Regions from separate parts of the Homo sapiens genome. Here region 1 is linked to region 2. The links come from fine-mapping of genetic effects on gene expression. A gene starts in region 2. The other region holds a variant in brackets. All regions are shown on one strand. Distances are between the middles of the regions.

The links. PIP is the estimated chance that this variant, and not a neighbour inherited with it, causes the effect. A credible set is the group of variants that fine-mapping cannot tell apart.
Region 1: its variant is the best candidate, but not a certain one, in a credible set for the expression of MXRA5 in fibroblasts (GTEx, PIP 0.90).

Annotation. Positions count from the first base shown.
Region 1 is chrX:3,522,665-3,538,859 of GRCh38, forward strand. It overlaps SNORA48B (small nucleolar RNA, H/ACA box 48B), which reads right to left and starts at 9,587; the gene lies at 9,453-9,587. RefSeq lists an enhancer at 4,766-5,965. The variant C/G (reference allele first, on the strand shown) is at 8,809.
Region 2 is chrX:3,337,816-3,354,010 of GRCh38, forward strand. It overlaps MXRA5 (matrix remodeling associated 5), which reads right to left and starts at 8,837. Exons shown (of 7, transcript NM_015419.4): 1 at 8,700-8,837; 2 at 5,831-6,046. The coding sequence starts at 6,018.

The DNA of each region.
Region 1 (16,195 bases), 180 kb after region 2:
CCTTTTCTTTCAACAACTTTACATGAATCAAAGATGCCAGATGGTGCTAGACATTTTTAGAAGGAAAAAAAAACACATGGAAGATGTTCTCAAACTTTCCTGCCTTCACTAAGAAGTTTTCTCTTAACTTGCTCTTTCCCAAAAGCTATCGTCTACTCTCTCTTCTTCCCGTCACTACCAAATATCTTCACCCATAGTCTACGCTCATTTTCTCCCATGGGTTATGGCTCCCGCCGTCTTCATTACTCTGTGATGCTGCCCTTGGAAACATGGTTGAGATCTCATTTCCAACCCAGGAACTCATTCTCAAGAGTTTATCTTCTTTGGGCTTCTGCCTTGTCTCTCTCTTCTGAAATTTATTCTGAAACCTCCCCTGGTTTCCACAGTGTCCTCCTTTCCTCTTCCTGGTAGCGCTCATACTTCCCATATCTATCATTATATTTTATTGTTTTCTCTCCTCCACATACCCATATTTGTAAGAGTTTACACTTGGTCCCTTTCTTTTTCTCTGAGACCTCATCTACTTCTGCTCCATTAAATATCTCCCATACACACATGGCTCCCCGGGTCTTTAGCCTTTCCCTGGTGAGACTCAAATTGTCATTGATCTACTGAATTTGTTTACTTGGATGCCTCTATTTAACTCAAACTCATATTTCTTAGCCCCTCACCTCATCTTAGTCAATTTTATGCTGCATCACAAATTACCACAGACTGGTTAACTTATGAAGCAAAGAAATTTATTCTCTCACAGTTCTGGAGTCTGGGAAGTCCAAAAACAAGGTACCATGGGTCAGGACTTATTCTCCTAGAGTCTACAGAATGCTGCCTTGAATGCTGGGCCTTCCAGAGGGGAGAAAGGTTGTGTCTTCGTGTAGCAAAGGAACATGGGGGCTTGTTGTGGGGAGAGACAGAGGAAGAGAGAGAGAGGAGAACCCACTCCCACCCAAGCTCTTCTTCTGGCTGCTTTAATGCACTCATGAGGTGGAGCCCTCATGACCTAAACACCTCCCATTAGTCTCCGCCTCCCAAAACTGTTGCATTGGAAGTTATGTATCCAACACATGCATTTTGGAGGGGACAAAAACCTTCAAACCATAGCATTCCCTTCATCCCCACTGCACCACCATTACATGTCATATCTCAAGGAGTCACTATCTGTTTATCCAAATGAGAAATCATGGCCACATTTTTTAGCTTCCATGTCCAATCGTTATCCTCACATCAGACCTGGCAAAATGTTCCACCAAGTCTGTGGATAACTTCCCTCTCCAATCTTTCCCTTTCTCCTTAGTCCCTCTGCTGTTTTCCTGGTTCAAATCATCATCTCTCTGAAGGCTAAGACAGACACTGGTAACTCCCATTCTCTCCTTTGTATTTTTTGTCATGGAGTGTCCCCCCACCGGCCAAAGTTTTTGCTGGGCACGTCTGCCTCTGTAGGGATACCTTTCCGCAGCCTCCCTTGCAGGTAGTGGCAGAATGTGACCAAGTGTATCAGTGAGCTATGAGAAGAATGGGCTGGCCCTCTGCTGCCCTTTTTTTTTTTTTTTTTTACTTTCCTGAGGGCTAGTTCCTGTAGATATTGTTTGCTGAGCATGTATAACACTCTTTGGTATAGCAAAGACAGCAATGAGAGCTAGGTTCCCTGAAAAGACTTTCCTGTGTACCTACTAAGCCACATCGGACCTATACTTAGAAACAAATTTATCTCTCATTGGAAGCTTATATCACCATCATCATCATCACCTTCACCATCATCATCACCATCACCATCACCATCATCATGACTATCATCACCAACACCATCATCACCATCACCATCACCACCATCACCATCACCATCACCACCATCACCATCACCACCACCATCACCATCACCATCACCACCATCACCACCATCACCATCACCACCATCACCACCACCATCACCATCACTATCACCACTACCACCATCACCACCACCACCATCACCATCACCACCACCACCATCACCACCACCACCATCACCACCACCACCATCACCATCACCATCATCACCACCACCATCACCACCATCACCATCACCATCACCACCATCACCATCACCACCACCACCACCATCACCATCACCACCACCACCATCATCATCACCATCACCACCATCACCATCACCATCACCACCATCACCATCACCACCACCATCACCATCACCACCATCACCATCACCATCACCACCATCACCGTCACCATCATGGTCATCACCATCATCATGACTATCATCACCAACACCATCATCACCATCACCATCACCATCACCATCGCCATCATCATCATCTAAATTTTCTACTTTATTTAGGTCTCTTTGGTTTTCCCCAATATCCTCTTTCTGTTCCAGCATCTTCCAAGATCTTACGTTACATTTAGTTATGACATCTCTTTATGCTCCTCTTGGATGAGACATTTTCTTAGACATTCCTTGTTTTTGATGACCTTGACAGTATTGAAGACACTTGGCAAGTATTTTCTAGGATATCCCTCAGTTAGGATCTGTCAGTTTTTTTTTTTTTTTTTCATGATCAGACTGGGCTTACAGGTTTTGGTGAGGAAAACCACGGAAGTAAAATGCCACGTTCATTGTATCATATCAAGAGTGCCTTCAAGAACCTACCAGCGGGGATTATGGCAATGGACCATAAAAGTTGTCATTGGCAGTTTCCAAATTAAGGTTCTCTCCTTTTCTTTTCTTTTTGGCTTGTTCTGCCCGTCATTAGCCAACGCATTAAGATTGCGGTATATGTCACCACCTAGATTTAACTGCATTTGGAGAATTAAGGTAGAGGCTTATGTCATATTTTGGATGCTGTGTATTGATATCATAAGTACTAGTGAAGGCACCCACAAGGAATAAACTTTTCCCCAGTGTCTAAGTTAGACTCAAATCATATTGTTTGGGCATTAACACAAAGGGTAAGCCCTGAAGAATAAGGAGGAGGAGAAAAGGGAGAAGGAAAAGAGGAAAAGCAGGAGATGAAGGTAGAGGAGGAAAGAGAAGGAAGAAGAGGAGAAAGAGTAAGGAAAAAGGGAGAAAGATAAAAATGTTAAGGTCACTCTCCCCATAATGGATTAGACACAAAACCTTGTTCCACAGAAGGGTAAGTCTGGAAAGAATTGAAGAACCACAGCTCAGTTTTGCAAAGGGAAAGGGTATGAACCCAAGTAGAGACAGGACAAGTTTGCTCTGTGTTTGACTTGTTTTCAACACCATTCCACCCATGAATGCCACCATGCGCTTGCTTCAATGTCAGGTTGAGGAATCAGTCTAAGCAAACTTCCTTCATACTTTCTACTATCAGCCCAACCATAGGCAGATTATCTACAGTTATTCATTCAACATTTATCTTATTGGCAAGTCTCCTTCCTGCCTTCCTCCTACCTTGCACAATATTGAATCTCTGCATTTCTATTTCCCAGTTACATTTTGATTTTTCAGCAAGATCCATACATCCAGGCATCGATGTGAGTTGTCAGCAGGTAGTGGGGGCAGAGTGGATGCTGAAAGGCCCCAGAGCTCCTTAAAGCTGAGTCCCTTTGCTTGCCAAAATGCTCTCATATCCTGTTTTGCATGCCACGTGTTAGACAGTACATTCCATCCAGTGGAGATACAGCTGCTTGTATCATTGCAAACCAGCTAAAGACACGCAGCCCCGGCTTCTGCAGAAATTGGCTAGGATGCGAGTTAAATTGTCCCAATTTGCTAATGAACATACAGAAGGAAAAAATCTTTTCAGCTTGGCTGGTTAGTTGCAAAATATGTCATTTTCTCATTCACATAATTGTTGGGCATGATCAAGTGGAAAATGCAACTATTTTTAAGGTACTCTTTTGCCATATAATGGTGACTCTTTAAGGGTACACATCAGGAAGATCCATCTGGGAATTTTTTTTACTAGGTAGTTAAGATTTTCTCCCCTCCCCCAGACCTACTGAAAAAGGATAGGGTGCATGAATTTTGATAATGTTCTCCCTGGGATTTTGATTTCTAATCCTGGATAAGAGCTCTGCTTGAAAGAAGTGGGGTGATTGGGTTTAGGGCTGCTTCCAACACTGAAGTTTAGGATTCTATGAAGCTTTAAATTTGGATGGAGTGAAGAAAAACCCAGACATCCATTAATGTTAATAAACAGCTGCACATTAGGAAAGTAGATACACTCATAAACTAAAATATCTCTTTATTTTTGTTTCCTGGCATGAGTGCATTCACCTCAGAAACAGTCTCTATGGAAGCGGCCAACATGTAGTCCCTACTGTGTTTATCCAGCCCACTTCCTCCTCCTACTCTCCAAATATCTTTTGCATTACTCTCCTCAACCCACTAAGTGATTTCTGCTCATCTCTCTTTCTGCTCAACTTCAAAAAAGAACATTTTATATTGGATTATGGTGATCAGAGAACCCGTAAAGACCTTATGGTCTTATAGCACATGTTTGGCATCATTACTATCATTACATAGGCCTGATGTTTCTGTAGATGAGTATCTATAGCTATAGATAGAGCTATAGATGACCAAACAATCAATGAGCTCGCTGCTCAATGCACATAGAGACTAATACCATGACACTGGCTTTTGACAAAAGAAAAGCTTTATCGTGAGTCAGCTGGCAAAGAGACAGGAGGTAATGCTCAAATCTGTCTCTGTGAGCTGGGCTTTGGGTCAGGTTTTATAAGCACAAGGTAATTAGACAAGATCTAATTGGACCTTGCAATGAAGTGATGCCATGAGGCATGATCTGATTGGATCTTGCCATAGGGTGACAACAGGGTTCAATCTGATTGGATCCTGAATCTTGACACGTGGTGTCTGCTTCTTAGTTCAGTCCCTGCTCCTCAGTTAGCTTTCTCTCAAGTTGCATGCTTGGTTCATCTGGGCACATTCAGGTTACATGATCCTCAATGTGGGGGTTCATGGCAACTGAAGAACAAATCACAATTTTGCTACATGAAAGTTGAGCCAGATTTGTCTGATGTCGTTTATATATATAATAATATGTACAGACACACACACACAGTTTCATGTTACTTAATTGGTCACTTCTTAGGTGTCATTTTTTTCAGTTCACAAACCGTAAAAAATTATAAACTTAATAAGGATGTCCATTGAATAAAGACAGCACTTTTAGCTCTCAGACATTAGGAATAGCATGCATTTTATATAAGTTTAACAAAGAAACAGAATAACTTGGACTGTCTACCATTACTAGAAAACCAGAGAGATCAAGGAAGTAGAGTGCAAGAATGTTATCTGGACATCCACCGAGGGTGGCCAACCATCTAGTTGACTCAGAACTTAGGGGTTCAGTGCTGAACACACCCTGGGATGTGGACATTCAAGCTAAAACCAAGAAAACCACAGGCAAACCAGTGTAAGCCGGCCACCATACTTATGCTTCCGGTCAAGATGGAGTAACAAAAACAGAGTTTTCCCTCCAGCCTCAAATGACCAAAAAGTAAAGAGTCAACCATTTAAGGGAGAACTATTTTCAAGACTGGATACCAGGCAGTTAAGGATAGTGATTCTCAAAAGAAGATTAATTTTTAAAATAAAGGGAAAATAAATAAATTTTCAAAAGAGAAAAAAAAAAAAGGACGGTGATTCTCTAGAAGCAGAAAAACAAAGTGAGACCTATGGTGGCCCCAGCTCACTGCCTTGAGAGCATTTCCAGGCTATGACTGGAAGGCAGAAACTAAGAGAAGCCTGGAAAACTCCCCGAGTTGAGGAGATGGAGCTGAGAGAACAGCCCAATCATAAATCAACCTACTAGAAAGCATCTCGCCATCAGAATTGTCAAAACATCAAAGCGGCATACCTTTGCGATAAGAGATTCTGGAAATTTTCAAACACAGTTGGGTCAACTCTTGCTTCTATCCCTTGAAACCCTAATGTAAGATGTTTGGAGTGTGTGTCGGGCTGTTTTCTATTTAATGCAAAACTTTGAGCCAGCTCAAACACTGTCAGATTTACACTATTGAGTTTTAAATGACTTCTTTTAAAAAGTTAGATATATTATGCAATATTCCATCTAATATTTTGAGGGGAACAAAAGAATGCAAATACAGTTTGATGGACTTTAAAAAAATCATTGTAGGCCGGGCATGGTGGCTCACACCAGTAATCCCAGCACTTTGGGATGCCAAGGTGGGAGGATTGCTTGAGCCCAGGAGTTCAAGACCAGCCTGGGCGACATAGCAAGACCTCATCTCAAAAAATAAAATAGAATAAAAATAAAAATTTAAAAAAACATTATAATTCTATCCTGAAAAGATAAAAAATCAAACCCAGCATATCATGAGTAATTCACCTATTAGACAACTTAGTACAGTGCCAGTAAAATGGGAAACTAGGTCTATACTGAGATAATCTAATTATAGTTCATGCTTTGCTTTCTGATGTTGGGTTGTTTCAAAAGAAAGACATTTTGGCATAAAACATCCAGATAATTACAGTTAATCTGAATTTATCATCTTTGATTTTATTTGTAGATAACAACAATGTTTACATTTGTTTAGTTTCTGTAAACCTCAGTCTATAAACAAAGAAGATACCTTCGAGACTATCCACCTGTGAATTAAAATTATTTGCTTTAGCAAGACTAAGCAGAAGAAGAACATAGCATATGCTGTAGAGGACGTGTCTTGTTCCTTTAGTGGCATTTCTTACTACTGGAGTTTTTTGCACTCAATTTATCTGGGATTTAGAAAACGTAGCCTTAGCTGTACATGCTTGGGAAGAAAGAAAGCCTTCACATTCTCCATATGTGTAACAAAGATGTGTATTTCAAGCATATAGATGCTTTTCTGCAACAAAAAATATATAGTCTCAATGGGTTATCCAGACTGCCTTTATGTTCACCAAAGTGTTAGGCTGTCCAAGATTAAAATTCCCCAAGCCCGTTAACCTCACCCGTTTTTTTCTGACTACAGCATAAGCAACTCTTTCATGACATCACTAAATAACATACACATGTGGTCACAGTTACAGATATATATTTCCTGGCTGTATGCAAGATGAGGCACTGTTTGCACAGTATCCTTTAAGCAAAATGTCACCTTCCACCTGCAGACATCTGCCTACCCAAATGCGGGTGTGCAAGCAGTATATGCTAAGAAAAAATCTGTTATAAACTGTCAGAAGAAGACCAGACAAACTGCAGACCTCAACAGCCTACCGCCCTTAGGCAGCCGTTTCTACAAGAAATTATGTGCAGATTTTCCTAAGCCCAAGAGCTGTTGTAGACAGGCATGGTTCTCACACATTGCATCATTGTTCCCCAGTTGGGAATTAACTCTGTCTCAATCCCATTTTAATGTCCCCAGCAGGTATATCAATGCTCTGATTCCTCTCTGATTATCATCGAATCACCAAATTACAGTAAACAAAAGTCAGACCATGCAGTGAAGAGACTTCTCCATCCATAGCATGTTATTCTTTGAAAGTAGATGGTTTTATTTAAAAAATAAGAATGTACAAAATTGTGCATGCTAGTTTTTTTCAGAGAACTTAAAACACACGGTTACCCTGGAGGAAATGGTCACATTCTTTATTTCTGTCAGTGCCTGTCAAGATTAAACTTCCTGATTGGAGACTAGAAGATAAGATCAGAGCAGGAATACAAAGAAAGAGAACACAGGCTACCAGACGTTTCCAATCACAGTAAGAAATGGCCTCTGGAATGGAACTCAAATTAGACTAAATTCCAAGAAAAAACCTCCACCGGTCCTATCTCTAATTTTTTTTTCACGCACAAAACCATGGGATTTCTCAGATCTCAGTCTGTAACTGTCTTGGTCAGCTTGGGCTTCCATAACAAAATACAGTATACTGAGTGGCTTATAAACAGCAGATATTTGTCGCTCACAGTTCTGGACTCTGGAAGTCCAAGATCAAGACATGGCAGATTTAGTGTCTGGTGTGGACTTCCTTCCTGGTACGTAGATGGCACCTTCTTGCTATGTCCTCACATAGTGGAAGGGGTGAGGGAGCTCTCTGGGGTCCCTTTTATAAGGGCACTGATTTCATTTATGGGGCTCCACCCCTATGACCTTATCACCTCCCCAAAGCCCCAATTTCTAATACTATAACCTTGGGAGTTAGGATAAATTTGGAGAATACATGAACATTCAGACCATAGTAGTGGCAAAGGCTATAGTCATGTGTCACTTCACAACAGAGATACATTCTGATAACTATGTCCTTAGGTGATTTCCTCATCGTGTGAACATCACAGAATGCACTTTCACAAGCCTAGATGGTCTAGCCTACTACACACCTAGGCTATATGGTCTAGCCTGTGGCTCCTGGGCCACAAACCTGTATAGCAGGTTACTGTACTGAATACTGTAGACAATTGTAACACAATGGTAAATATTTCTGTATCTAAACTCATCCAAACATTAAAATATACAGTAAAAATATGGTATATAAAATAAAAAATGGTACATTAGTATAGGGCAGATTCATTATATCTTTAAGGAATGACTGTCATATATGTAATATATATATCCAGGAGTTGGAGGCTGCAGTGAGCTATGAATGTGTCACTGCACTCCAGCCTCGGTTACAGAGGAAAATCCTGTCGAAAGGAAAGGAAAAGAGGAGAGGAGAGGAGGGGAGGGGAGGACAGGGGAGGGGAGGAAAGGGTGTTAATATCAGATAATTTGACAGAGAGTGGGAAACCAGGAGAGAATAATTTGGAGTGGGAAAAAAAGGGAGAGAGTAGATACAAATGCTGTTTGCAAAAGAGCAAATCAGACAGTTTCTCCTCACAGCCAACT[C/G]GTAGATAAAATAGCATCCCCTTGCTCTTCTGGGTGTAATGAAAATTCCCACTCAGTAGGTGTTCTACTATTATGACATTAGGTCTGGTAAAATGCCAGTGCTGTTTGCCTGTTGCCATAATTAAGTAGCCATTGACACTTGAGTAAGAATTAATAAATAGTGCACTGTCAGCAAATGGATTGTCAGGTTCGAAAACCCAGCTGATTTACTTCCAAGAAAGACAAACCCCCTACTGCAGCAGAGAGCCTGGAATTAACAAGACTTAATCTGCTAAAGGAGAAGGCAGACTCCCAAAAAGGGTTAACGGGAAACTGAACACAAGTCCCACTCACATCAGGATTTTCCAGAGCACAGACTGACCTTTCACAACTCCACAATAAAAACCAGTGACTTCTGAAGAGGGATTCTGAATCATATTTTTCCCCAAGGATTTGGAAAAGTCACTTTTTCATGTGTCATCCTCACTTGTGGGGGACATGTGTGTGTGTGTGTGGCTTCATGATTGATTGTCTTATGCAAACTCTAATTTTTTACCCAGGTCTACCTTGGTTATTCTACATAGGTGGTCCAATTCTCCATTTATTTACCCCTTTTTCTGCCATGCTGTTATCCCTTAAAATTAGCTTTACATTTTTTAAAAAAAAAATGTGTCCAAGGCATGAACCAGGCATAGGCACAGATGAAAAGCCAAGCTGGGAGGAACAAGGGGTTGCTTTGTCCCTGGCTGATATGAGATGGGCACCACCAACTGGATGCCACTCTACCCAGGTCAGGGAAATAAAATGAGCTTCTTAGGACAAATCAGAAAGGCACTCAAAGACAGTCAGCGATAGGGTTTGGATCTGTGTTCCCACCAAATCTCATGTCAAATTGTATTCCCCAGTTTTGGAGGTGGGGTCTGGAGAGAGGTGATTGGATCATAGGGGTGGGTCCTTCAAGAATGGTTTAACACCTTCTGCTCAGTGCTGTTCTCATCATAGTGAGTGAGTGATCACGAAATCTTTTGCTTGTTCAGAAGTGTGTAGCACCTCCCCACGCCTTTCTCTCTCTTCTTCCTACTCCAGTCACTAAGATGCCTGCTCCCCCTTCACCTTCCACCATGATTGTCAGTTCCTGAGGCCTCCCCAGAAGCAGAAGCTGCCATGTTTCCTGTACAGCCTGCAGAACTGTGAGCCAATTCAACCTCTTTTCTTCATAATTATCTAGTCTCAGGTATTTCTTTTCAGCATTGCTGAGGCAGGATAGGTAGTCAAGAAAATGACTGTGTTCTTTGTGTGCAGCAACCATGGTTACCATGACCATACAGTCAACACAGTAAGCTTCAGCATTTGCACTGTCATTGAACTCATTCAAGCAAAACAATTCTTCAGTAGGAACTTTCCCTTACAGAGAGCATGCGCATTTTGATGTTACCAGTCCTCAAACTGACCCTTTGCTCATTTTAATAGTAAAAAGCACACCTGCGGGTAGAGATATAAGATGTTAATGAGACCTGCAATGCATGAAAAAGCACGTACAGCTACTGCTCATGTGCACCCAGAGGACCACCCAGAACATGCTTAACAGCAACACCTCTTTCCACCTCCTTATAAATCATCATGTAAGACTCCCATAAAGGGAGTTTCTCCAGCAATAATCAATACTCTGTCACCCTAACTAGCTGCCTGCCCTGAATCTACTTTCTCAGGTTGTACTCTCTAGTCTCCCGCTGACTTTCAAAATACTCTTTTTGTTTTGCAATAATTTACTCTATGCTGCATCTCCTTGGCTGTGTGTCTGTGTTTAAATTCTTTTAAACTAGGAAGACAAGAATCAAGGTATCACGACAGCCGTCAACAATGTGAGAACGGACTAATATGAACAGAAAATGAGGAAAACAGCTATCAGGTAGCAGGACGAGAAAGTCTCTGATTTCATCCTGCAAACAACCTGTACCACACCAGGCTCACAGGCCCTCCTATATCCTTCAAGCTCACAGGGACCCCCACCATCCTTCCATGCCGACAATATCCCACGTGTTCTCCCAAGCTCAAAGTGGCTTCCACATCTTTCTAAGCTCTCACTCACTCGCAGTCCATGTCCTCCAAATCATATTTCTCACAAGATTCCACAACTTTCTTTTCCTGCCTCTTCCCTACAGGCAGAGGTTAGAATCAGCCTCTCTGGTCAGCCTCATCTGAACTCCTTTTTCTGTCTTTTCTTTCCATTCGTTCATAATCAGTGCTTTGATTAACATCTCCACACTTGGACACCCTGGGTGAAATGTGCTCCCTGTGGGGCTCTGACGGATACCCCATCTTCATTCATTCATTTCTATAAAGCAACTTGAGGCTTGCAACCCTGTTCACTGTTCAATTTGCCTTTTTAAACCCAGCCTCATATTCCACCATCCTACAGAAACCCCCATGGCTCCACAGTCTCCCAAAAGTAAATTTAGGGGGAAAATAGCCTATGATATACAACTTGTAAAATTTTGTCTGTTGATTTCACCTTTCTGATTTGGCTGAAGTTTCACAATGCAGGGATATCATCATCACTCTTCCAACAGGAAGAAATCTTTTTCTTCAATTCCCAGCAAACTGAGGAACTAGAAGATGAGTAGCACTGGCACTCAAAATATTTAGACACATATGAGGGCATTTCTTGCCCAAAATGACAGCTTAACTTTACTGCTACTGTTTACTGTAATCTTAGGAGGCTTGTGAATTTTTCTGACCCTCCAGCAAAGGTGAAGATCAGTCATCCATAACTGATGTCGTAAAGCAGATGGCATGAAGCAGACATCTGCAGTGGTAATGGAACAGGAAGCTTACACTCTTCCTAGCTTGGAAACAATGCTCAAAAAGGGTACCTGGTAAAGACAAAGAGTTAACACTGGGAAGTGTGCTGGGGAAATGCTAATTTTCTCACACTTTCCATGCTCATGCTCAGTCCCTGGGGCAGCGTGACCAAGAGCTCTAGGAAGAGAAGGAGAATCTCTTTTCATTTACCCCTGACTCCAAACATGCATGCAAACAGATGGGTGCATCAGTAGAATAAGTTCACATTCATCTACCAAAGGGTTCAATAAACTAAGAATTACATGATCCTATTTGGGGTTAAAACATAGAAATTTTGGTTTCTTCCAATAATAACAACTTTGCACTAGTAGTTCACTATCTAGAGCAAATAAACTAGAGAAGCATGGTGACTATGAAATAAAAATCACAACTGAGTAAGACTTTTAGAAAGGAGACAGTATGTATTCACTGACAGCCACATATTTCAGCAAGATGCACCAGGTAGTTGTTCTTGAGAGAATTAATAACAGATGAATCTCAGGTTCAGAAAAGGCAAAAGTAAAAACAACAAAACTGAAAGCTACAGACAACTTGGAACAAGAATGTTCCAAAAAAAATCTGGCTTCAAGATGCTCAGGAACTAGATTCCTTCCTTTTATCTCTTCTACCACCCTAATACATGACTTTCATCTTCAAGTTTGCCTCATGTCTCAGTGTGAATGCTGAAGCTCCAGCCATTGTATCTACATCCCAGAAAGCAGATGAGGGAGCAGTGAGGAACAAAATGGCCTCTGCGCCAAGTGAATTAGCTCTTTCTCTGCAGTCTTCCTAAATGTCCCACGACATTTCTACTGCAATCCTATTGAACTTAGTTACTTGGCCCCAACTAGTTGAATGAGAGGCTAGCAACTATAGTTTGCTCGTTAAGTTTGGAACATTACCACCTCAAAACAAATTTGAATTCACTTGAGAAAGGACTTCAGGGCAGGCTTGTAATCCCAACACTTTGGGAGGCTGAAGCGGGAGGATCACTTGAGGCCAGGAGTTCAAGATCAGCCTGGGCAACATGGCAAAACCCTGTCTCTACAAAAACTACAAAAAAATTAGCTGGGTGTGGTGGCAGGTACCTGTAGACCCAGCTACTTGGGAGGCTGAGGCAGGAGAATCACTTGAGCCCAGGAGACGGAGCTTGCAGTGAGCCAAGATTGCGCCACTGCACTTCAGCCTGGGCGATGAGAGTGAAACTGTGTCTAAAAAAAAAAAGAGAGAGCGAGCGAGCGAGCGAGCGAGAGAATGGACTTCAGTTATCAAATGCCAGTTTCTGCTCCAAATGCCATGGAATAACCGACTTGATGAGAGCTTAGAGATGACAGCTTAGAGATTGGTCAAGGAAGATTTGTGAGCCACGAACACCAGCTTCTAGAAAAGCAGTGCACACTCCTCTGCAGGCTCACTCCCAAGCAAGCCAATTGTTCACTGTGGAGTTTGGGTCTCCTGTCCCTTGCTCCCTTCTCCTCACACATCCCCAGTCACCCTGGAGGTCAGAATCTAAAATGGGTCAGCAGGGCTGCTGTCTTTGGGAGGCTCCAGGGAAATCGTTTCTTGCTTTTTTCTGACTTCTAGAGGCTGCCTGCATTCCTTGGCTCATGGCTCCTTCCTCTGTCTTCAAAACCAGGAGTGTTGCTTCACTTCCCCCTTCTCTGTCTGTCTCTGCCTCTCTCTTCTCTATCTCTCCTTGTGCCTCTGTCTGTCTCAGCCTCTCTCTGTCTCTCTTTCTGCCTCTGCCTCTGTCTCCCTCTCTCTGCCTTTCTGTCTCCCATTCTCTGTCTCTCTTTCTCTCTGTCTCTCTTTCCCTGTGTCTCTTTGTCTCTTCCTGTCTCTCTGTCTCTGTCTCTCTCTGTCTTTGTGTTTTTCCAACTCTCGTTGTCTCTCTCTGTCTCTGTGTCTCTGTCTCTCTCTCTTTGTGTGTGTGTGTGTGTGTGTGTGTGTGTGTGTGTGTCTCTGTGTGTCCCTCTCTGTCTCTGTCTGTCTTTCCTTCTCTTTCTCTGTCTCTCTGTCTCTGTCTGTCTCTCTCTGCTTTCTTCATCGCATGTCTTCGACTCCTTGCTGCTGCCCTCTTCCAAGGAGCTTGGTGTTACACTGAGCTCATCTGAATAATCCAGAATAATCTCCCCTCTCAAGAGCCTTAATCTGGAAAGTCCTGTTTGCCATGTAATGTAAAAGATTCACAGGTTTCTGAGATCAGGACATGAACATCTAGGGACAGGGGAGACCCACGTTGCAGCCCATGGCAACCACTTTAGGATTCTCAATAAAATAATAGAGTCAGCCAGGCCCAGTGGCTCACACCTGTAGTCCCAGCTATTCAGGAGGTTGAAGTGGGAGGATTGCTTAAGCCCGGGAGTGAGCTACGACTGCACCACTGCACTTCAGCCAGGGCGACAGAGCAAGACCCTGTCTCAAAATAAACACATTAATTAATTATATAGAACAGAATTTGTTTTTCTAAAAGGTATTTACTGTTTTGATGACTGTTATCTGAATGTTTCAGGTAATGGATTTTATTTATTTATTTATTTATTTATTTATTTATTTGTTTGTTTATAGAGCTGGGTTCTTGCTTTGTTGTCCAGGCTGGAGTGCAGTGGTGCAGTCATAGTTCATTGCAGCAGTGACTTCCTAGGCTCAAGTGATCCTCCCACCTCAGCATCCGGAAGAGCTGGGACAACCGGTGTGCACTACCACACCCTGCTTATTTTTCAAAACATTTTAGTAGAGATGAGGTCTGATTATGTTGCTCAGGCTGGTCTAGAACTCCTGTGCTCATGTGGTCCTTCCACCTCAACCTCCCAACGTGCTGGGATTACAAGTGTGAGCCACTGCACCTGGCCATGCTGATTTTAAAGCCTATTTAAATCTTAAAGCATTACATTGTCCTCCATTTGATGGCATAATAATATTTGTGACCATGTTCATATGACAGTGCTTAAACATGTTGAGTGTTCAGAGAAAGAACCACTGTTGCAGACTGACTGATGTTTAGAATGCCTTGTGGACAAAAATATTACAAAGAAGAAAGAAGTAGTTTTCTTTAGCCCTCAGAAGACTACTTGGTGAATAAACCAGTGACATTTCACTTTAAAGAAAAAATTAAGCAGGTAGGGTTTGCTTCAAAGTAAATGTGTGCTGAGCATAGGAGAATAAGAAGTGGAGAAACCTTGTATACATGGAAAGGGTAAAGTTAACTCTTGGAATGTGGCTAAAATTCAAGGTAAGGAACACAGCAAGTTGTCAGAGTCATAACATGAATAATTAAGGTAACACAGATAGAATTTTACAAATTCAGTTTGCAAAATAAATATCCAAAGAATGACTGAATAATTAGTAAGATCTATAGTTTAGCATTTAACAAAAAGGATTCACTTCGGATGCTGATCTGTGAGCCAATCTGTGTCTATTTCCATTCCTCTTTACAGCACAGCTGTCATATATTCGCTATAATATGATAGATATGCCAGGCATGGTGGCTCACACCTGGAATCCCAGCACTTTGGGAGGCTGAGGCGGGCGGATCACCAGAGATCAGGAGTTCAAGACCAGCCTGGCCAACATGGCGAAACCCCGTCTCTCCTAAAAATACAAAAAATAATATAAGCAGCCGCTTTTCCCTGGCACATGGGGTCTCCTCTCTTGGCTTTGGAGCCCCCTCCCTCTGTCTCTGCACAGGGGAGCTTCTTCCATCTTTCTTCTCCCTTCTTTCTTTCTATTAAACTCTCCGCTCCTTAAAGCCAAAAAAAAAAAAGATTTAAAAAATACACATACAACTACAAAAAATAGCCAGGTGTGGTGACGCACGCCTGTAATCCCAGCTAATCGGGAGGCTGAGGCAGGATAATTGCTTGAACTTGAGAGGTGGAGGTTGCAGTAAACTGAGATCGTGCCACTGCACTCCAGCCTCGGTGACAGAGTGAGACTCCATCTAAAAAAAAAAAAAGAAAGAAAAAAGAAAAAAAAGAATAATATGATAGAAAGATAGATAATAAAATAGTAGATTAACAGACGATACATGATAGGTAAGGTAAGTAGATAGATGATAGATAAAATGATAGGTTAATAGGTAATAGAATAATACAATAACAGATGATAGAGATGATATGTAGACAATACATAAAATGATTGATAGGTGACAGACATGATAGCTAGATAGATGACTGACAGAAAGATAATAGATGACTGCCTGACAGATAGATGATAAACAAATAGATGACAGGTAGATAGATATGATAGGAAGATGATAAATGATAGTCAATAGATAGATATGATAGATGATAACGATAGCTAGATGATAGATAGATGATAGATAAATGCATATGATAGATATGATAGAAAGATGATAGATAATATAGAGAGATGATAGATAGATAGATAGATAGATAGATAGATAGATAGATCAATAGATAGTACATACATACTTTCATTTCTATGGCTACTTTTTAAATAAATGCCTAATGTTTTATATGTTGACATATAAAAGCGTGTGTTCAGCCCAACTTCCATTGTGAAAAACAGCATGTGAAATCTAACACCACTCAAAGAATTTGGTGCA
Region 2 (16,195 bases):
CAGCAGGCATTGCTGAGTGGTGGGAGTGGGAATGAGGACAAACTTGGGGGAAGGACTTCTACTTGGAGGGGAGTAAGTGGGTGGATTCTATCATTTGCTGGACAGCAAAGGCTGGGAGAGACAGGTGTTGGGGAAAGAATTCAAAGCTGTATTTGCCATGGGATGTTTGAGAATTTTGTAAGAATCTAAGGGGAGAATAGGGCTCAAGACCAAGATGGAGACCCATGATGCACGTTCAGGGGAGACTGGCCAACCGACCAATGGAATAGAGCCCTGGGAGTAAATAATATCACCTGAACGGAGCCCAGAAGAAGGAGGCAGATCTTCAGACAGAGGAGATAGGGCTCTGAGGCTCTGTCTCTGAAATGGGTCAGAAACAGCTGGATGTTCCTCAGCACATTTTACTTCAAGGGTGTGATATGTTCTCCTTCCATAGTTGTGGTCACCAAAAAGGTCTCCAGATGTTGCCAAATGTTTTCCAGGGGCAAACTCATCCATTGTTGATAACTATTGTCATAGATAGATGATAGATAGATAGATAGGCAGACAGATGATAAATAGATAGATAGATAGACAGATAGATAGATAGATAGATAGACAGCCAGACAGATGATAGATAGGTACATAGATAGATAGATAATATATAGCTAGACAGATGATAAAGATAGATGACAGGTACATAGGTGATAGATAGATGATAGATGATAGGTAGATAGATAGAATACATGATAGAGATAGATTGATTGATAGAGATGATAGGTAGGTAGATAGATTATTGATAAATAGATGATAGAGAATAGATAGGTAGATTAATAGATGATAGACAGATAGATAGATAGAATAGATACATCAATAGATAATGATAGAGATCAATGATAGGTAGGTGATAGGCAGACAGATGATACATAGATAGATTGATAGATAGATGATAGGTAGGTAGAGAGATAGATTGGCTGATTGATGATGATAGGTAGGTAGATAGGTGATAGGCAGATGCATGACAGATAGATGATAGATAGATACATAGATAGGTAGGTAGATAGATATAGACAGGTAGAGAGATAGATTTGTTGATTGATGATAGAGATAGATGATAGGTAGGTAGACAAGTAATAGGCAGACTATAGATAATAGATAGATAGTTAGATAGATAGATAGATAGATAGATAGATAGATAGATAGATAGATATTGAGAAAAACAGAATGGCTCATACTAAAGCCATGGATAGCTGAATGTCAAATTTAACCTGAGAATTTTGATCACAACTATCAAGGTGGAGAAGAAGGGAAAATAGGAACAAAGGATAATACTGGTTGATTTCCCTTCACATCTGAATAAATTCCCCTTTCAGGAAGGCACCCAAAGTCTGGGACGGGCTCCACATCAGCTCAGAAACCTGCCTGACCCTGTCATCTTGCCCCTGCTTGTTTTGTTGTTGTTGTTGTTGTTTTATTTTTTTGTTTTTTGAGATGGCGTCTCGCTCTGTCACCCAAGCTGGAGTGCAGTGGCGCGATCTTGGCTCACTGCAAGCTCTGCCTCCCAGGTTCACGCCATTCTCCTGCCTCAGCCTCCCAAGTAGATGGGACTACAGGAGCCCACCACCACGCCCAGTTAATGTTTTTGAATTTTTTAGTAGAGACGGGCTTTCACCGTGTTAGCCAGGATGGTCTCGATCTCCTGACCTCGTGATCCACCCGCCTCAGCCTCCCAAAGTGCTGGGATTACAGGCATGAGCCACCGTGCCCGGACCCCCCTGCTTGTTTTTAAGGGGCATTAGAGAGCTTGCAGATGCAGATGCCAAGGGTGCCAGATGTGAGAATGGGGCGGATATTCTGGAACATACAGAAGCCCAGGGAATCACTTGAGTACCCCCTCTCAGAACCCAAGGGTATACATGTCCCCTTCTTGCATCCTTCTAAAAATCAGCAGAGTCTGGGAAATTAGCACGACACTCAGGGAACAGAATCTAACTGGAGACTGGGATGACCCTGCATAAAGTGCAGTTCTATGGCTTATTAGCCCCTTGGCTTACATTCCAGACTATCTTCATCGCCTATTGATTGGCAATCACTGAATGTATAACCAACTCTGTGAAATGTTTATGGCAGACAATATTTGCAAAATTATGTCTTCGGTTCCGGTTAATATCACAAGGCAGAACTTAAAATAAAATAGGCAAGTATGGGCATTGTTGAAGTTGCAGAAAGGCATCATCAAAACCAGTCTTTTAATAGAGGGAAAAAAATACTTAAGAGTCTGTAAATCCATCTCTAGGTGGATGCTATGTTGTTGGTTCCTGAAAAAAAATATTTGGAAAGCAATTTTCAGAAACGCTTTTAGTTTGTCCAAGCAGGAAACAGCAATGCTGACAAAGAACCCTAAAAACAGCTGTGTGGGAATAGAAGGTTTCATTAGCACTTGGCCAACAATTCCTCATTCCTTGAGAGTCTTATATTTTCTCCAGACTGTTAAAACACAAATCAATCTCTGAGTTTTATCTGTTAGACATTGCTCTTGTTTCAGTTTTTTCCCCAACAAAATGCAAGATGCCAGACTCATTACCTAATTTGAGATTGATTTTTCTGAAACAATGCTATTATGATATTATTAGTGATTTTTTTCAAGTAGTATATTAGTTCCTGTTACAAATTAAACCAGATGGAAGTAATAGATGTTGATGCAGTGAAGTGATTCTCTAGGGTTTTAAACTTTTTCTTTTCTTTTTAATATTACAGAAAACTATCTCTAGATATTACTGGCAGCAATAGGAAAAAGAAACTTTAACATGTTGGTATGTCTGTTTTATTCCTACGTTAAAGTCAATCTTTATCGTGAGTTGTTTAAAATGAAACCATCAGAAATGGTGTTGTAATTTAGAGGTTAGTTATGTTTTGCACTTACAAAGTACTTCAGTTTAAAAATGAACGGGAAGAAAAGCATCCCAGAAACTGTAAATGAGATGCAAACAACTTCAGAAGTAATAGTCTTGTTGGTGCTGTAAGTCTCAAGCCATTAAACAAATCACCTCTTTGGGGAGGGTGCATGCAGGGACTGTCTCCACCCTCATTTCCAGCCTGATATCCCCCTTCCCAACACACAACACAAACACACAAACCTGCTGTGCAAGAAGCACCGCAAATAGATATATATTATGTATAATAGATATATATTATATATCATGTATAATATATATTATACATGATATATATAATGTATAATATATATTGTGTATAATATATATTATATATTATATAATATATTATATTATACATAATATGTTATACATAATATAATATAATATATTATACATAATATATTATATATTATACATATATTATATATTATATATTATATACATAATATATATAATATATAATTATTATATATAATATATAATAATATATATAATGTATATAATTATATAATTATATATATAATATATAATAGAATTATATATAATATATAATTAATATATATAATATACATATTATATTATATATAACATGTATATTTACATTATATATATTATTACTATATATTATGTATATATAATATATATTATTATTATATATAATATATATAATATATATTATTATTATATATAATATATGTAATATATATTATTATTATATATAATATATGTAATATATATTATTATTATATATAATATATGTAATATATATTATTATTATATATAATATATATAATATATATTATTATTATATATAATATATATAATATATATTATTATTATATATAATATATATAATATATATTATTATTATATATAATATATATAATATATAATATAGTATACATATATTATATATTATATAATATGTATATTTACATTATATATTATATATATTATAAAGATAATATATATAAAATATATACATTCTGCATCAACCCCAAGCTTTTTAGAGGGCTCCACCAAGGCCTGGCTGATGGTACCCCCAGCATGGGACCTGCCAAGGTGCTGGGTTTGAGAGATGAGGTGGCTAATCCCAGCAAGTTAGACCATGTGTTAAAATGGTTCATGTATAAAAAACAATTCCTAGACAGAGCCATTTTGCACACCAAGGGTGGAGGAAAAAGAAGTTACAGTTAAAGCCCCACTTTCTGTTCTGCAAATATCACACGCACCTTCCCCCAGGATTCAAATGGGCTTTAGCAGACATGGAACCAACCCATATGCCCAAGAAAATGTGGTACATATACACCATGGAATACTATGCAGCCATAAAAAGGAAGGAAATCGTGTCCTTTCCAGAGATATAGATGAAGCTGGAAGCCATCATCCTCAGCGAACTAACAAGGGAAAGAGAAAACCAAACGCTGCATGTTCTCACTCATAAATGGGAGTTGAACATTGAGAACACATGGGCACAGGGAGGGGAACAACGCACACCAGGGCCTGCTGGGGGGTGGGGGTTGAGGGGAGGGAACATAGAGGATAGGTCAATAGGTGCAGCAAACCACCAGGGCACACATATACCTATGTAACAAACTTGTACACTCTGCACATGTATCTTGGAACTTAAAGTTAAGTAAATAAATAAATAAACAAAACTAATGGGCTTTAGCACCTCTTCCCTTTTTCTTACTTCCATTACACAAGAAATGTGTCCGATAAATTACAAGATTGTAAAAAGGGAAGCTGGCTTATGTGTTACTATTCCCTCCTCTGCCAACGCCAAGCTGTTTTCCCCAATGAGCTATCATTGTTGTGGTTGGATGTTCAGATGGTCAACTCATAAAGTCTAACAGCATTTCATTGAGAAACCTATTTAATGGTCTGTTGCCATGGGTTAGGGAAATTATCATCTTATTCCCTCAACGTTTCATTCTCTTATTCTACCACTGTCAACAGGGAAGTTTCCATCTTACTCCCTCAACACTTCATTCCCTGACTCTACCACTGTCGATAGAGAAATTTCCATCTTATTATCTCAATGTTTCATTCTCTTCTTCTACCACTGTCAATGGAGGAGAGTTTTTTCTTTTAACTTTGTTCTATAAGATGTCCAGGTACATTTACAGTTATTTTGCATTGGCTCAAATCTGGCCATTTTATTTTTACTAAAACATCTCCATGGTGGATATTTCACAAACACTAATTTAATCAGTTGTTCTGGGGATGGATGCTAAAAAGTAGCTATTATATTTTGTTGACGAACTCCAAATGATTGTTGACTATTAAAATTGCAGTTGAGCACCTGTAGTTCATAGCAACTAACACTTCGGTCCACACAACCCTCGTGTGTATAAAATGAAACCAGTATATTAAAAGTCTGTCTGGCAAGCCACATCAAAATAGGTTTTTAAAAAGACGTTGATATTTTTAACAGGCAAAATCTGCAGGAACTCTTTTATTGCCTCAAAGTCGCAATTCTATCATCTACATGACTTATAAAATGGCACAGATGTTCTGCTTATTTTTATTATTCTTAAATCGTTGCTGAAGTCTACTTAAATCATCTTCATATGTTTAAGTGTGTGTCTCATGCATTCACCTCAACAATGTATTAAAGAAATGCTATCAAGGGAATTTCTCAACAAACTCTAAAGTTGTTCATGCTGCTCGTTAATAGACCTTACAGCAGTGGCAGCTGATGGATATATTGAGATAATCATCGAAAAAGCTGCGTTTAGCATAACTAAAACTTTTTCTCTCTATTCTGCCCATCTGCAGCTCCATAATTCTCGACAGAGCTACACAGAGGAAATGCACATATGAAGTTAAGTAAATGCACATACACACACGCAAAACCAGATCAAGACGCACGCACTGACAGTGGGAAGGTTCGGGAAGAAAGTGGTACAAACCCCAAATTGATTCTTTCCACGTGTTTAGCAATGCCAGCGGGCACGGAAGCCAGGGATCGGAACGTGCAGTGGACCTCGCTGGGGACGTAGCAGGCACAAGGATGCGGGCAGGCCAGCGCCACTCGCGGATGGCCCCAAAGCAGGATCAGCACCACGGAGAGGGCCCCCCAGTGCGCGCGCTTGGGCATCTTGTCGGGGTGCCTGATTCTCGGATACCTGAGGTAGAACAACGAAGAGATGAGCTTATTCACAGGTAGCACCGACGAACTGTGGGCAATTTTTAAATTTGAATTGTGCATCAGGGTTTCAAGCTTCCCAGGACTTCACACGATGTGTTGTAGTGACGCTTAAACCATGGGAATTGAGAAAGATGAAACATGGTTTTTTTTCTAAACTTTTCACCATTCACTTTAATCATGACTATAGAATATAGTCTTGATTCTTGGCTTCGATACTATGATTTGGAAATCTATCTTGCACTCTGTAATTGCGGCTATGAAACAGAGAGAGACGAGAGAGAGAGAGAGAGAGAGAGAGAGAAGAAAGAGGTTTATATTTATGTATCCATAATTAAAAAATAATAAAATATTGTGTTTCTGCCTCCAACAAGACTGAGCCATTATATATTGCATATATTTGAATTTAAAACTTCCCAAGAAGTGTTTATTCGTATTCTTTCCTTTAATGATATTTTTCAAACCTTTAATTCTAGCTTCTTGAAGAGCTTAAAGAGGTATTTGCTAGAAGGATATTCATCCTGTTATTTCTGGGTTTATTTACTATCCTTATGTTTTTGTCTTGGAAAAGCCAGAGAGTTTTTTTGATGATATAGAGTTGCTGTTAATCGGGGAGGAAGTTTGGGGGAACCTCTGATCATTCAATAAACAGGAAGGGACTGCTTATGAAATATATTCAGGCAAACAGAAAAAAATGGAGTCACTAAAAAATGGAAAAGCTCGGGTAAAGCTAGATTGCATCAGCTACTTCATTTAGAATGGCGGTGATCATTTTCTTCTTGTCCTGGCAATGCCTATGTCATCTAACATTTTTGTCATCTCTTGAATGGCGTTCACTTAAAAATAGTGACACACATGGAAAGTAAATAGGGATACACAACAAACACGCGCCTGCCCATTCGCCCGGGTTCTGAACGAGCGCGAACTGCTGATTAAAATTCTAAAACCCAGGCCGGACTCGGTGGCTCACGTCTGTCATCCAACACTTTGGGAGGCCGAGGCGGGCGGATCACCTGAGGTCAGGAGTTCGAGACCAGCCTGACCAACATGGAAAAACCCCGTCTCTACTAAAAATACAAACAAACAAACAAACAAAACAAAATTAGCTGGGCGTGGTGGCGCATGCCTATAATCTCAGCTGCTCGGGAGGCTGAGGCAGGAGATTCGCTTGAATCCGGGAGGCAGAGGTTCCGGTGAACCGAGATCGAGCCATTGCACCCCAGCCTGGGCAACAAGAGCGAAACTCCGTCTCAAAAAATAAAAATAAAATTCTAAAATCCTTCCTATAAGAGAGGAACATCCCAAACCTGTAGCTTTTCCTGCCTTTAAGTGACCTAGAAAAGGTTATTCTCTTAAGCCCGGGGGCGCGTCTCCCTTCAGCTGCCCATAAAGAACTGATGGCGCACAGGTAGTTTTGCAAAAAAGCAAGTCCGGGCTCCGCCTCTGGGCGCTGGAACAAACCGGCTCCTGCAGCTCTGCAAAAGTCCTCGGAGTTTTCTCTCTCGCCAGAGCCCGGGCTTTCCCCGCCCCTGCCTGCGCGCCTGACCTCGGCGCTGGGCTGGTTCCAAGGGCAGCCGCGCCAGTCCCCAGCGTCCTGTGCCTGCGGGCGGACTTGGCCCGGGCGTTCCATAGGACTCTTCAGCCCCAACTCCCTGTCCGGCCTCCCACCCCGGCACCAACCTCCCGGGAGACCCAGGAAACTCGCCCCCAGACAACCCTAATCCCGGGGACTCGGGGTCGGGTCTCTCCGCCGCGGAGAAAGCGGCCTGGCGCCAGCTAGGCCGCCAGAGACGGTCTGCGAACCCCGCCGGGAAGCAGGGGTGGGGGCGTGAGGCCGTCTGCTTTCGTCTTGGCCCTGGGCAGACAACCTGGAGTGGCCGGGCGGGCAGCCCTGAGCCCCTGGCCGGCTTCCAGAGTCCGCTGGGTCGCGTCGAGCTGGCTGCGGGATGAATTACGAGCTTTCCCGGAACGCGGCTGGGGTGGCCCTGCGAGTCCCCGCCGCCCGGGACTCGGACACCAAACCCCTTTTGTCTGCGTGATGACTGTCCCGGTTTTTTTGCATGGCTCGGATCACTCTAGGCGTTGGGCTGTCCCCTTTCCAGGGAAAGCCTGGGTAAGAGTAGGAGGAAAGAGGCGGGGAAGGAGAGGGGGAAGAGAGGAGGGAGAGGAGACTTGAAGTAGCCACAGCCTGAGCAACTTGGAAAGAGGCTCCTCAAGCGTCCTTTCCCCCACCGATTGCAAGAGCAGAGTGGGCTTCACTTAGGAATTCCGTTGGCAGCTTCCTAGAAACGCGGGATGGCGGGGTTGAAGGTCTCCAGAGAGAGCCAGGGATGGGGAGCGCTTTGGGGAGAGGGAGGAAAGGAGGCATGGGATGTCTGGGCTTAATTAGACCTATTCAGTGCATCCTCCTTCAAGATCCGGCTCTCCTCCCTATCTGATCCTTAGCTACTTAAAATTGCAGGAATTCAGGTATCCTGATTTCTTAGCAACTTCAAACAGTGCTGGGGAACGGTGCAATCTGCCTGCATGCAGGCCCTTTACCCCCAGTGTTTCCCTTGGGTGTCTCAAATCCCTTCACCCCCTGCAGGCAGACACGGCAGCCCTGGGGCGCCCTGGCCACCCTGGGTCCTCACCTGTCCTTGGGAAGCCGCCGCACACGGGAGCGGTGCGCCGGGAGCATCCACCGAGCCGGGGCGCGCGAGTCACGGCCGGGAGTTTGCCGGGGCCATGCCCTTCCCGGGGCCGGGGGTGAGGCAGCTCGGCTTCCCAGCGCGGCACAGCAAGCCGGCGCCCTTTTATTCCCGGCGCTGCGAGGCTTCCCCAAGTCCACGCCTCGGCACACCCCCACCCTGCCCCACCCCGGGGAGACGGGGCGCGGGCCCGAGCCAAGGGACCCTGGCCGCGCCGCTCTGCGCTCAGCCTTCCTCTCGCGTCTTCATTGCGCCTGGGCCCGGGTGGGCATGCCTCGCCCACTCCAGCTGCAAGAACCGCAGGCGGCTCGGGGAAGGAGGGCTCTTTGTCAGAGAGAAGTCCAGGACCCCAGGAGGGAAGGGCGAGATGCAGGGAGCGCGGTGGGAGCCGCAGTAGAGTCCGCGCTTGGAGAGCGCCTAAGCAGCGCTGGGAACGTTTCCGTTCCTTTCAGGAGAGAGAGAAGGAGCAGGGTTTGCGCTTCTCCGGGCCAGACGGTGTTTTCTCGGCAGCTCTTCCCAGACCGTGTGCAAGCAGGAGCGGGCTGGCCCCGCCGGCATCCCACTAGCTGCAGGCAGGGCTGCAACGTGAGAGCCGCCGCCACGCCCTCCCGCCTCTCCAGGACTCCCCGGCGCCCGCCTCCCTCCCCTTGCCAGAGTCTTCCTGCCAGAAAGGTGGAACGGCTCCCCTCCGGCTTGGGGAGCATTCGAGGGGCAAGGCGAGGGTTGGGACGTTCGGAGAGTCTGATGGTATTGTCTGGGGAGGGGGCGGTGGGAGGGTGGGAGCGACCTGGCGACAAGGCAAAAAGTAGAGGGTGCAGAGGGTAGGTCCCTATTCCAGGAGGCAGAGGAAGAGGAGGCGGCGGCTGCCTGGCTTCCTGGATAAGTCAGACCTGGAATGGTGGGGAGAGGTCAGGCGAGTATCTTCAGTCAGCAGAGCCAACCTGGGGTAAAAACATGGAGCTCAGACAGGTGTGTAGGGCCCGGAAAGGCACCATTGCACCAGCTTGTTGTAGGGTGCACCAGCGACTGCTTTTCGCTATACCTCTGGTTAGCCGTATTCCTCTCCCTGAACCAGCATTTTGACATGTCCTTAGGGTCAGTGTTTGCCTGTTGTGTTCTTTGATCTACAAAAGACATCTGTGAGTATAAAAAAAATTTTTTTTACAAGCCCAGTGGTACCATGTACTTGTACAACGAATCCTGTCTGCTGAGATGCCCCTGAAGCAGGCTGATGGCGTGCGGCATTTATGTATGTGTGTATGTATGTATATATGTATCTATGTATTTGAGACAGAGTCTCGCTCTGTTGCCCAGGCTGGAGTGCCAGTGGTGCGATCTCGGCTTACTGTAACCTCTGCCTCCGAGGCGCAAGCGATTCTCCACCTCCGTCCCCCATGCAGCTGGTACTAGAGGCTTGCGCCACCACGCTGGGCTAATTTTTTTTTTTTGGTGCGGACAGGGTCTCACTATGTTGCTCAGGCTGGACTCGAATTCCTAGCCTCAAGTGATCCATCCACCTCGGACTCCCAAAGTGCTGGGATTACAGGCGTGAGCCACCCAGCCCAGCAGGCATGCAGCTTTTAAAAGGCAATGCATGGAGAAAGTATAATTGAGAAGTGCCTGCTCTTTAGATTCAGAAGTCCTGCCCTACGTCCAGCACTCTGTCAGGGGGCTTTCAGGAGGAAGGAAGGACTAAGCCTAAGAAACAAGTTGCTTCCCCTGCATGAAGCGTGGTTCATCTTAGCTCCTCCTAAGAAACACAGCGTCTAGGAATTCCTCACCACCTGCCTCCTGCGCCTAGGGTGGCTTCCACAGAGTTGATAGTCAGGAAATACTGGTTCATAAATGGGAATTCATTCCTTCTCTAGCTTTAGTTTTCAGTGTGTGTTGACATAGTTCCAGGGATTAGTCAAATAATGCCCTTAGGTAGCCTCTTTCTGGGCATGCCCCAAACCCATTGATTAAATCACGAAACAAAACAAAACAAAAAACAACTGTCTCTTGAACATCTCTTTACCCTTGTTAATGATGTTGCCACCCATCTCGTCAGCTAAACTAGAAACTCAAGCCATCCTTGCCTTCTGCCTCTCCTTCATGTCTTCCTCATAGTCAACTGGTTGCCAAGTTTAGATCCTGATGCCTAAGAATCTCTTGGCCCAACGTGTTCTTCTCTCCACCTCTCTCACTGCGGTTGCATGGATATGTCTTAGATTTTGACAACTTCTTCCTCCACCAACTCCTTCTCATTCATCCCTTCCAGCCCATCACTGAGACTTAGAGGGATGCCATCATCCTCAAACCCAAGGCTGAAGTTTTCCATGGGTGGCCTGTGCCATGCCCTGTGCTTCCCAGCCTGTCCCTGGGATCTTCCTTTTGGTGATAGATCTGGCTTGTCAAGAACAAGTAGCACATCCCTGATTTTTGTTGTTGTTGGTTCACGCCACTGTTTTGACAAAGTTCTCCTCAATCTCCATTGTATAGTATTTCCTTACCTCCATGCCCATTGCTAAAGTGGGCTTTTTTCCTGCATTGTGGACAATCACTCACCTTCTTTTTATGCCGTCATAGCTTCTTGACACCTGGAGTATAGCACAGAGCTTAGCATACACTAAGCGTTCAATTGAATGAATGAATGAATGAATGTGCGCATGACTGACGTTGAATTCTATTAAGAAATGTCTAGATTTGGCCAGGCGCAGTGGCTCACGCCTGTAATCCCAGCACTTTGGGAGGCCAAGGCGGGAGGATTGCTTGAGTCCAGGAGTTTGAGACCAGCCTAGGCAACCTGGCAAAACCCTATCTCTACAAAAAAAAAAAAAAAAAATTAGCCAGGCATAGTGGCATATGCCTGTAGTTCCAGCTACATACTGGGGGCTGACATGGGAGAATTGCTTGAGCCTGAGAGGCAGAGTTTGCAGTGAGCCAAGTTCGCACCACTGCACTCCAGCCACAGTGACAGAGCAAGACCCTGCCTCAAAAAAAAAAAACATTTAAAAAAGTCTGGATTTCTCTGCAGTAAGGAAATCTGTTTATACTACCTTATCCAGGGGGATTATTATTGGCACATTTAATAGATAATATCTATCAATACCTCTAAATACTTGTGTTACCTGTACAATCTGCACCCCAAAAATGATTTATCGAAGTCTAGTTAAAGGCACAGGTTTACGGAAATGAGATGGTTAACTCAAACATAATGGCTTTAATTCCTTACAAGTGTGAAGTAAATAAAATATCAAGTCAACTAATTCAATTCTGCTTTGCAAATTTCATGCATGGGATGAAGGGGAGTGAGCAGCGGAAAGAGACCGCTGAATGGGAGCAGGGTTTTAGCTTAGGGTGACAGAAACGTTTTGGAACTACATGTAGGTGATGGTTGCACAATATTGAGGATGTACGAAATGCCATGACATTGTTACTTTAACATGGTTTACTTTACGATGTGAATTTCACCTCAATAAATTATTTTTAATAACACACATACTAATAAAAATAAATGCCTAGATTAGAAAAGTCCCAGGGCGTAACTTGTACAATAAATCCACAAATAAAGCATTATGGAATCTCGTCATTCTGTACTTTTTTTAAATAAAATGCATAGTTTGCTGCATTTAGTCTTTTTTGTTTTGATGTTTGTCCTGCTAATGTTGCCTGCTTGCTTGGTGATGTGTTCCCAGAGCAGGGACCATGTTTGATTAATTGTTGAATCCCTTGAAGTGCCAAGAGAGTTCCTTAAATACAAGAGGTTTGGAGTACATGTCGGTTAAATTAAATTCATCTGCTTGCTAATAATTCCACCATGTGGAGGGTGAGGAGGGATGATCAAATGAAGGGCAGGTCAGTCCTTGTAGCTACAGAATGTACTTCAAGCAAAAGCTCAGTGATTAACAAAAGGCCGGAGCCCTCCTAATCGCCAGATGCCATGGAACCTGAAGGATTGCAGCTTGTTGCAGGATGCACCAGTGACTTTTACCAGCCACTGCTTTTCACTGTTCCTCTGGTTAGCAGCATTTCTCTTCCTGAACCAGCATTTTGACAACATGTCCTTATTATCAACATTTGCCTGTTTTGTCTTTGATCTACAAAAGACATCTGTGAATATATATATATATATATATATATATATATATATAAAATAGAGCATTCAGAAGGAAATCCAAACAGGTTTGCTAGCTCACTTCCCATCACGCAACCCTGATCCTCCATCGAGACCCCCTTTCCTCTAGAAATGTGGAGGTAGGGAAACTTGCAGCCCAGGAGACCCAGGAGGCCCTTACCACTGGGGAGCCATCATCCCTCTGCCTCCGTCATAAGATCTTTAAAATCCACTTTTCTTGCAAGGCTTTAACCAACAGCAGAGCCATAGGTGATCGAGTCAGACAGATAGTAGAGCTCAAACCACCTCCTCCTACTACTCGCTATTTCTTGGCCAGAGGGCCTAGAACACACTATTCTCCCTTCCTAAAACCAGATTTCTCAAGGGTACAATAAGGGTAATTTTACCTCTTGGAGGTGGCGTAAAGACAGAATGCAATGCTGTATAGAGAGAACTGAACATACTACCTGCACCACATCTGTAGTTAATATTTATATATAGGATCCAGCGAATCTACAGTCATTTTTTTCAGCTTTATTGCTGTGTCTTTTATCTTCCTATCCAGGTTTTACCCCAGCGCAGAGTCTCTGGAGGTGCACTGGCTGTTTTGTGTATGAACTGCAGTTCCTGGCGATTCTGATTTCAATGTGAAAGTCTAATATTCTAAAGGACTCTGTGGATCACTATGTAATTTTCTTAACAAGGGTTGTAAAAGTAACTTTCTTAGTCACATGACTGCAAACCCCACTGCTTCCCAAACTCTGTAATCACGAGAAGGGCTGACCTAGTGAATACCCTTGGATGACTGGAGGGAAAAAAAAAAATCGACACAGGAAATCTCTACTTCAAACTCATGGGCTTGCATAGCTCAGAAATCTCAGGGGCAGACTAATAGCTAGTGGGGTTGTATCTTTATTTGAGCAGAAACAGACTTTTAGGAATTTTCCATGGGAACTTGCCCTCATCTGTGTAGGGTAAACCTTCAATGAAAATACGGGCTACTGGCCACCTCAATGAAAATGAGGGGGTATTTTTGTTTTGCTTCTTATCCTCATAGCACAGTCGGTAGGAATACTCTGTTCTCTTGCATGTACTAAAATGCTTCCAAATTTTCTCAACAGCATACTTTAAAATAGAACAGCAGCGTGGAAAATAAGTAAATAAATACAAAGAACACGTCAGAGAAACCCTCTAGCTCTCCTGAGCACAGTTGAGTTATCTCTGCAGATTAGGCTGGAGAAAATTCTGCTTAGCATGGTGCATATCAACCTACAGAGAAAACACATCGTGGAGAAGTGAACTAGCCTGACCCAGCTTGGGCAGATGTGCTGATGGGGATTTCTCGGCAAAATGAAAGCTGTTTATCTACTACTGTGTCTTACCGGGACCAGCGGCACCTAGAACGGTGGAACTCACAGACACAGGCTTCTCCGCTCTGGATCCCTAAAATTTCAGTCGGTAGAAAACAGCTGCAGAAGATGAGATCATGGAAGGTTATCCCCTTCCTCCCCAACCCAGACCACACAGGCCAGTGAATTGCAGACAGGGAAAGGCAAGGGAATGTCAGCAATTATTAATGAATCCCTTCAAAGACCTCAATCCTGGATGGGTCATTCAGCAGAAATCGCAGAAATCGAGACCTAGCTCACTTTTTTGTGGGGGGATGAAGTCTCACTCTGTTGTCCAGGCTGGAGTGCAGTGATGGAATCCTGGCACGCTGCAGCCTCCACCTCCCGGGTTCAAGCGATTCTCCTGCCTCAGACTCCCGAGTAGCTGGCACTGCAGGTGCGCACCACCACGCCTTGCTAATTTTTGTATTTTTAGTAGAGATGGGGTTTCACCATGTTGGCCAGGCTGATCTCAAATTCCTGACCTCAGGTCATCCATCCATCTCGCCCTCCCAAAGTGCTGGGGTTATAGGCATGAGCCACCACACTCGGCCCATCTCACTTTTCAAAATAAAAATGGCACATTTTCAACATGAAACTATTCATTTCAGAAAGATGTTCTATAAATGATGAATACTCACGATTCTGGAGTTCACATCAAGAGGGAACCCTAATGAAAACTACGGACTTTGGGTGACTTCGATGTCTCCGTGTGAGTTCATCTGTTGTAACAAATGTCTCACTCTGCTGAGAGCTATTGATCATGGAAGAGGGGGTGTGTGTGTGTGTAGGAAAGGGATATATAAAAATTTCTGTGCCTTCTGCTCAATTTTGCAGCTCAGACTGCTCTAAAAATAAAGTCTAGTTTTAAAAATTCTATATTTAAAGAGTCAAGACTCTTTTTTTTCCTCCCATCTGTTTTGGCTTACATTTTTGCTGACTTGTCTTCTTTCAGACAAGCGGCCTCTTGGAATAAAAACCAAATGGCTTCTAGGGGATTCCACATGGAAGCTGCCCTAGAAGCTTGTGAGGAAGAAGGAAAGAATGTCACTGAAACTAGTTCTGAGCACTACTGGCTGGTGGAGACCTTGCCCTCAAGTGGCATGGTCTAGAAATCTCCTAGGGCAGCGGTCCCTGATCTTTTTGGCACCAGGGACCAATTTCATGGAAGACAGTTTTTCCGTAGAGCAGGATGGGGGTGGGACATATGGTTTTGGGATGATTCAAGCACATTACATTTATTGTGCACTTTATTTATATTATTATTCTACTGTAATATATAATGAAATAATTCTACAACTCACCATGATGTAGAATCTATGGGAGCCCCATGCTTGTTCTGTGCAGCTAGACAGTCCCATCTGGGGGTGATGGGAGAGACAGTGACAAATCATCAGGCATTAGATTCTCATAAGGAGCCTGCAGCCTAGATCCCTCGTATGTGCAGCTCACAATAGGGTTTCTGCTCCAGTAAGAATCTAATGCTGCTGCTGATCTGACAGGAGGTAGAGCTCAGGATGGGAAGCAGCTGTAAATACAGATGAAGCCTCACTCACTGGCCTGCTGCTCACCTCCTGCTGTGCAACCTGGTTTCTAACAGGCTGGTAGCAGTCCATGGCCCATGAGGTTGCAAACCCCTGTCCTACGACATTGTTCTTACATGTGGATGGATTCCAAGATCCATCTCACTTTTCAAAATAAAAATGGCAAATGGTCTCTCCTTCAGCATGAAACTATTAATTTCAGAAAGACCTCCTATAGGTGATGAATACTCAAAATTCTATAGGACACCACGTGAAGTGCTTTCCCTTTGGGTAAGATGTCTCTTTCATGAATTAGAAGAAGCCGCCTTAGTTAACAGACCCGGGGTGACTCATGGAACAAGTTTTAAGTTATTCTTAAAATACAGAAGAGGAAATTAGTACTTAAACACAGTGACCTTTGATTCCCTGCAT